Linked DNA regions of Homo sapiens. The protein of the gene in region 1 purifies or fractionates together with the protein of each later gene. This does not show direct contact. Each region holds a gene or a part of one and is shown on either strand. Other genes may lie near its edges.

The links.
Region 2: the proteins of STMN4 (region 1) and TRAPPC14 purify together in Homo sapiens (affinity purification with mass spectrometry; 2 studies listed by BioGRID and IntAct, with this or other methods). This does not show direct contact.

The regions. Positions count from the first base shown.
Region 1 is NC_000008.11:27,244,767-27,248,511, forward strand, and holds part of STMN4 (stathmin-4), read right to left. Parts: intron 1-3,745. UniProt on the Homo sapiens protein: Exhibits microtubule-destabilizing activity.
Region 2 is NC_000007.14:100,156,860-100,160,604, reverse strand, and holds the start of TRAPPC14 (trafficking protein particle complex subunit 14), read left to right. Parts: upstream 1-1,881; 5' UTR 1,882-2,105; coding exon 2,106-2,516; intron 2,517-2,666; coding exon 2,667-2,762; intron 2,763-2,842; coding exon 2,843-2,972; intron 2,973-3,145; coding exon 3,146-3,232; intron 3,233-3,390; coding exon 3,391-3,511; intron 3,512-3,612; coding exon 3,613-3,745. Other genes in the region: GAL3ST4 (galactose-3-O-sulfotransferase 4), read left to right, coding at 1-677. UniProt on the Homo sapiens protein: Specific subunit of the TRAPP (transport protein particle) II complex, a highly conserved vesicle tethering complex that functions in late Golgi trafficking as a membrane tether. TRAPP II complex also has GEF activity toward RAB1A.

The DNA of each region.
Region 1 (3,745 bases):
CAAAACAGGAGAGTCAGGGAAGGAGCAGATCTGGGAGGATCAGAGGGGTGGAGGTGATGGGAGCCCATGAAGGCTACTACAAAGAGAGTGAGGAGCAGCCAGCAGTGAGTGGCCATCCTCAGGACCATTTGATCCTCGGTCACCCTCTGTGGTCACTGTGCCAGGGGAGGGTGGCGAGAGCCAGCAGGCTCACTGCCTACATCCTTGCCAGCCAAAGAGACTCTGAGACCCACTTCAAACCCCTTGCCTTTCTGTGCTGGCTGGAGACTGGCAGGAGGAGGTAATGGGGCAGTGAACTCAGCTCTGGCTTTAGGGCTAGACCAGTGTGGGGTCAAATACAAGTATCACCTCTCTTACCAGCTCTCGCTAGTCTCTTTCTCCATCTTAATCCTGCACAGAGCTGTACAAATTAAATGAGAAAAACCCATGCATAGCATCCAGCAGACAGGAAGCACTGAATAAATGTTAGTCTCTTTGCCCTGTCTTTTGCATCAGGACAGCTATCAGGTGCCACATGCCTGCTTCAGAGCCATTACCTCTGGACCCACAAGTAAGGACTGTTGTTGCCATGTGCGGATGGGGAAACTGAGGCTCAGAGGGTTTATGTGCCTGCTCAGGGCAATGCAGCTAGCAAGTTAGAGTGCCCATTTGAACCGAGGTCCAGCTGGACTTAAACTGCTTTGTTCTCCTTGTTCTTGTTGTTGTGCTTTGGAGCCAGAGGCCCCTGTCATTGCAGCACAATGGGTCTTCTCTCTGCAGAACTAAGCTGGTCCTGACGGCACCAGTGAGTCCCTGAACAGAGAGGCAGGCCTGGTGCCTGCATGCGACTTCCCTGGTCATGACACCCCATCCCGCAGTCTCTGCTCATGGCCAGGCTGACTGACAAGTCACTGGCAGAGTTAGTAAGCCCTTGCCAGAGTGGCAGTGGCCTTGGACTTCTACCTGGGGAAAGGATCAGAAGTGGAAGCCTGAATAGGTGGAGGGGAGGCAGAGAGGGATGCCTGAGAAAGAAGGCAGATGGAGTAGGAGCAGGCAGTTGGAGTTATGGAATGTGCCTCCAGCCCGAGCTAGAAATGATGATAGGACCCTGTGCTCAGGGGGCACTCGACACCCACCACATTATCCTAGTCTAACTTTGCATGAAGCTGGCTTAGGCTGACAAGACAGGCATCATCAGCTTTGCTTTCAGATGAAGAACCTGGGGTTTGGAGAAGTTCAGACGCTTGCTTAAGGTCACACAGCTCTAAGGGTGCAGAGCTGGGTCTAGTCTCCAGGTCTCTCGACTTGTAAGCTCTTCCATTGTAACCAGTGGAAGAACTAGATACTCACTAATGCTTTCTCTATGGTCCTGAGGACTCACAGAAAGCCAGCCTGGCCTGGGGATATGAGTTAACTTTAAAATATGTGGTAAGTGCTTTCTACATGGAAGGAAATGGGCTAGGAGTTTTAGGAACACAGAGAAGGTCAGAAAGCCAGAAAAGGAAAACCAGGGCAAGAAACGAGATGTTGTAGAGGTGGGCAGAGGTATGCATGGTCATGATCAAGGGATTTGCAATGGAGACCTCTCAGTGTTAAAAATGTGTGCTTACTGAGCAGCTGCTATGTGACAAACTCACTTTAATTTTCGTAATAGCCTCGTAAGGCAGGAATTACTATCCCCATTTTATAGAGAATGAAATCGAGGCTCAGGGAAGCTAAGTGCCTTTTCAAGGCCATTCAGTACAGTAGGTTAAATAATGTCCCCTACATGCATACATGCTCATCCTAACTCCTACAACCTGTGAATATGAGCTTATTTGGAAAGAAGGGCTTAATGAAGGATCTCAAGAAGAGACATTCCTGCTTGCCTGAGAAAGCCTTAAACCCAATGGCAAGTGTCCTTATAAGAGAGACTGAGAGAAAAGGCCATGTGCAGACGGAGGCAGAGATGGGAGTAAGGCAGCCACAAGCCAAGGAACCTTTGGGGCCGCCAGAACCTGCAAGAGACAAGGACAGATCCTCCCCTGGAGTCTTCAGCAGAGTTCAGTCCACTGACATCTCAGCTTTGAACTTCCAGCCTCCCGGTTAGTGGTAAAGTGATGCAGTAGCCCCGGGGAAACTAATGTCCTCAGGAAGTGACAAAGCCAGGGCTCAAACCCATGGTTTTTTTCACCTCAGGTACCAGCATTCATACATGGGCTGATTTATTCCTCAAAATGATCTATGTGGCCAGGCGTGGTGCCTCATGCTGTAATCCCAGCACTTTGGGAGGCTGAGGTGGGCAGATCACTTTGAGGTCAGGAGTTTGAGACCAGCCTGGCCAACATGGTGAAACCCCATCTCTACTAAAAATACAAAAATTAGCCCGGCATGGTGGCGCATGCCTGTAATCTCAGCTACTAGGGAAGCTGAGGTAGGAGAATCACTTGAGCCTGGCAGGCGAAGGTTGCAGTGAGCCGAGATCGCGCCACTGAACTCCAGCCTGGGTGAGAGAGTGAGACTTTGTCTCAAAAAAAAAAAAAAAAAAAGATGATCTATTTACTTGTGCCTGTGGGTCCATAGGGCCCTTATAAATCCTCATGCCAACAGTCACATCATTTCTTTTGCACTCAAGACCCAAAAGATATGCCCAGGGGACATTCTGAGAAAGGACACAGAAGATAAAAAGGTGGGAAGCAGAGGGCACAGAGATGAAAGGAGTCTTTGCCACTGGGTGGCGCCAGCCATGGCAGGAAACCCAACTTTATCCCTAATAACCTGTGGCATCTGCGCCCAGTGGGGCCAGTCACATGTCCCTCCCCAGCACCTGGCCTGGTTGTGTGATGCTAGGTTGTCTTGTGGGGTTTGTTAAATGGCCATGGTCATGTTATCATGCCACAGCAATATACAGCCTGCAAGGGAGCGAGGGCCACCAAACCTCTCCTGGAACTGTCAAAGAAGGACAGTAAAGGTGTTATGCCCAAGGTCAGAGCACACAGAGTGCCAGGGATTCAGGTGGCATGATGAAGATGAAGAGACAATAGAGGCCATAGGAAGCATGAGGCAAGGAGTGCAAATCCTCAATGGGAGATTCTATCCAAGACGTCAGCCAGCAGAGCAATGGAAGGCAAAACCCAGTGCAGAAGCAAACCTCCATCCCCATCCCTCAGAGGTTCCTTATGTGTTTTCTGTTAGGTGAGAGCCAATCCTAGCCCTTCTATTGCCCCTAAGGAAGACCAGGAAATTCATTGCATCCAGCAGCAACAAAGATCAAAGGAGCCCCAGACAGAAGGTCAATGTGGCAGTCATTCAGCCAATATCCAGAACCAGAGCTAGAGCTCAGGATGGCAGGCCCTCCAGCTCCTGCCTGGTGGTCACTGTCAAGCACTTCTGATGGACACAAACTGGTTGGTCAAGAGCCAAGGCCTCCCTGGGCAGCTGAGCCCCTGTGCTGGCAGGGATTGATCCAGTGGAGCAGGTAGAGAGAGGACTCTATTTATTTATTTATTTATTTATTTAGTATATAATTCTGTGCCAAGCCCTCTGCTAGATCTTCAGATGGCAAAGATTCGAGTGTGGCCTCATCCCAGACTGTGATGAGGTTACTATGCAATTGAGGTTCTGCAGTGCCTATCACCTTGCAATGACTGTGAACCTGACTGTGTGCCAGGGATGTGGACTGGGTTTACTCAGGAACACAGGAGGCCCACTGGGCTGCATGCAGGGTGCAGTGGGACAGAATGCTAGAATAGGAACTGGAAAATTGCAGAGACCTCTGGACCAGTGA
Region 2 (3,745 bases), on another chromosome or scaffold:
CTGTTTCCACTGTTACTGATCATCGCAGCCAGATATCAAGCCCTGCCTCTTTCGATTTGGGGTCTTCATCCTTCATCCAGTGGGGTCTGGCATGGCTGGACTCTGTCTTTGACCTGGTCATGGTGGCTGAGTACTTCGATGAGTCATTGGTTCTGCTGGCAGATGCCCTGTGCTGGGGTCTAGATGACGTGGTGGGCTTCATGCACAATGCCCAGGCTGGACATAAGCAGGGCCTCAGCACTGTCAGCAACAGTGGACTGACTGCGGAGGACCGGCAGCTGACTGCACGGGCCCGAGCCTGGAACAACCTGGACTGGGCTCTCTATGTCCACTTCAACCGCAGTCTCTGGGCACGGATAGAGAAATACGGCCAGGGCCGGCTGCAGACAGCTGTGGCCGAGCTCCGGGCTCGCCGAGAGGCCCTAGCGAAACATTGTCTGGTAGGGGGTGAGGCTTCTGACCCCAAATACATCACTGATCGCCGGTTCCGCCCCTTCCAGTTTGGGTCAGCTAAGGTTTTGGGCTATATACTTCGGAGTGGATTGAGCCCCCAAGACCAAGAGGAATGTGAGCGCCTAGCTACCCCTGAGCTCCAGTACAAGGACAAGCTGGATGCCAAGCAGTTCCCCCCTACCGTCTCACTGCCCCTCAAGACTTCAAGGCCACTCTCCCCATAAACATCAGACTACAGATTTAGGTGGAAGAGCAGCCATGTTTGAAGGGCACATGTGATGAGTGGGGGGCAGCAAGATGCCATTTCTGCATCTCCCAGAAGGGATGAGTCTTTGTCCCGATGCAAGCCCCCTCTTCGCTGGGCTCCCAGCAGTGCTTCCCTCCTCCACCCTCCACTCATTTTGTTCTTTCCCCCCAACTTTTTTTTTTTTTGAAACGGAGTCTTGCTCTGTCCCCCAGGCTGGAGTGCAGTGGCATGATCTCGGCTCACTGCAACCTCTGCCTCCCAGGTTCAAGCGATTCTCCTGCCTCAGCCTCCAGAGTAGCTAGGATTACAGATACGTGCCACCATACCCGGCTAATTTTTATATTTTTAGAGACAGGGATTCAACATGTTGGTTAGGCTGGTCTTGAACTCCTCACCTCAGGTGATCCACATGACTCTGCCTCCCAAAGTGCTGCCATTACAGGCGTGAGCCACTAGGCCTGACCTCCCCTTCCCCTTTCCTGCCCCAAGGCAGATCCACATCACCGAAGCTCCCTAGAGGGGCAAAAGATGGAGTGAGCCACAGGAAGTTTGGGGCGTGGTGAGTTGGAATGATACGTCCATTTCTCTATGAAATATTTGCTACTAGACTGTTCATTTCTCTCTGACATGTTTGTTGAATGAATAAATAATTTGAAACTTCTACTTGATTTATGGAGGGTGGAAAGGGGAGGGATGGAGAATCTTCCTGGGAGAAGTGGGGTTGGAAGGGTTGTTTTTTTTTTTTTTTCCGAGACAAGATCTCACTCTGTCACCTAGGCTGCAGTCCAGTGTCCCAATCATAGCTCACTTCAGCCTCAAACTCCTGGGCTCAAAGGATCCTCCTGCCTAGGCCTTCTAAGTAGCTGGGAATACAGGCGCGCGCCACCGCGCCCGGATAATTTTTAAATTTTTTGCAGAGAGGAGTTCTTGCTATGTTGGCCAGGGTGGTCTTGAACTCCTGGCCTCAAGCGATCCTGCCGCCTCGGCCTCCCACAGTGCTGGGATTACTGGCGTGAGCCAACCCGCCTGGCCGACGAGGTCTTCCATTTCTTTTCCAAGAAGCCTGGCCGCAGCCCCCGCCTGCATTCTCGCAGCCTCAGAGCAGCGGGACCCCGCCCCCTCCTCCACGGTCCGGGCACCCGCAGATTCCGGGGCCTCGGCGGCCACGCCCCCTCCCTTCCGCTTCCTGTTTCTCTCCAGTCATTCGGCTCAGTACCCCGGTTCCGGCGCTGCCGGGTCTCGGTTCGGGTTCGTTGCCCCGGTGCCGGGACCGGGCCGGTCTCTCCGGCCGCCCCAGCCGGGCGCAGCAGCCGGAGGTGTCGGGACCCTCTGGACCCACCCTAGCGGGCCCCGCCGGCGGTCGGCCTCCGGTCCGGGCTCCCAGTCGCGCCGTCCTCGCCGCCCCATGGAGTCCCAGTGCGACTACTCGATGTACTTCCCGGCCGTGCCGCTGCCGCCGCGCGCGGAGCTGGCAGGGGATCCGGGCCGGTACCGGGCGCTGCCCCGGCGCAACCATCTGTACTTGGGGGAGACTGTCCGTTTTCTGCTGGTGTTGCGCTGCCGGGGCGGTGCGGGGTCCGGCACCGGGGGCGGCCCGGGCTTGGGCTCCAGAGGAGCCTGGGCAGAACTGGCAACCGCCCTGGCCGCCCTGGCCTCGGTCAGCGCCGGAGGCGGGATGCCGGGGGGCGGCGGCGCCGGCGACCAGGATTCGGAGCCCCCAGGGGGAGGGGATCCTGGGGGTGGGGGTTTGTTCCGAGGCTGCAGCCCCCTTCTCACCCACGGCCCGGGCCCTGCTACCTCAGGGGGAGCGACCACGGTGAGGAGCTTTGGGGGACCTGGCACAGGACGGAGGGGCGGTTTGCTGGGGGCCTGAGGCAGGAGGCAGATGAACTGCCGGTCTTAAAGGGAAAGGCTGCAGGCTGCCTCTGACTTGCTCCTGACCTCTTCACCCCTTTCCCAACCCCAGCTGCCTGTGGAGGAACCGATTGTGTCCACAGATGAGGTCATCTTCCCACTCACCGTTTCACTGGATAGACTGCCCCCAGGGACACCTAAGGCCAAGGTAAGATGAGCAAGAGTGGAGCTATTGTCCTAATTCAGACACCTTTTCCGGGCTCAGCCATCTGTCTTTCCTCTTGACAGATTGTAGTGACTGTGTGGAAGCGGGAGATTGAGGCACCAGAGGTCAGAGATCAAGGCTACCTGCGATTGCTGCAGACCCGATCTCCTGGGGAGACATTCCGGGGCGAGCAGAGCGCTTTCAAGGCCCAAGGTGGGCAGGGCAGCGCAGAGGCAAAGGGCTAGAGTCTGGGAATTGGGGGACAGAGGGGAGGGGTCACACTGGAAAGTGGCTAATGGGCTCTGAGAAGAGGAAGGTGAGAATTCTGGGTTGGAGGTGAGGTCAGCCTCCAGACCATCACTTCTTGCCCCCACCCCCTCCCGCAGTGAGCACGCTGCTGACTCTGCTGCCCCCTCCGGTTCTGAGATGCCGGCAGTTCACTGTGGCTGGAAAACACTTGACCGTGCTCAAGGGTAAGCAGGGCTGCCGGCTCCAGCCTCCGGGAGCAACAAGGGAACTGATTGGATGCAGTTCCTCTGGGCAGGCTGGTGGGGTAGGTCCGGTTTTTTCTGGGTAAAGGTGGGGCCTGAGGGGTCCAGCTATTCTGAGCCAAGCTGGTCCTCTCCCACAGTGCTGAACAGCTCCTCTCAGGAGGAAATCTCCATCTGGGATATCCGAATCCTCCCCAACTTCAACGCCAGTTATCTACCTGTCATGCCCGATGGCTCTGTGCTGCTGGTGGACAATGTCTGGTGAGGTCCTGGGAGGGGCGAGGCTGTGAAGTGGTGGGGATGGCTTCAGGGGCTGAGCTCTGGCATGGGGAGACCATGCCTTGTCCTCTTTTCTGAGCTAGTCACCAGTCTGGGGAAGTCTCCATGGGCTCCTTCTGCCGCCTACCCGGGACCTCTGGCTGCTTCCCCTGCCCGCTGAATGCCCTGGAGGAACACAACTTCCTGTTTCAGCTGAGAGGGGGTGAGCAGCCCCCT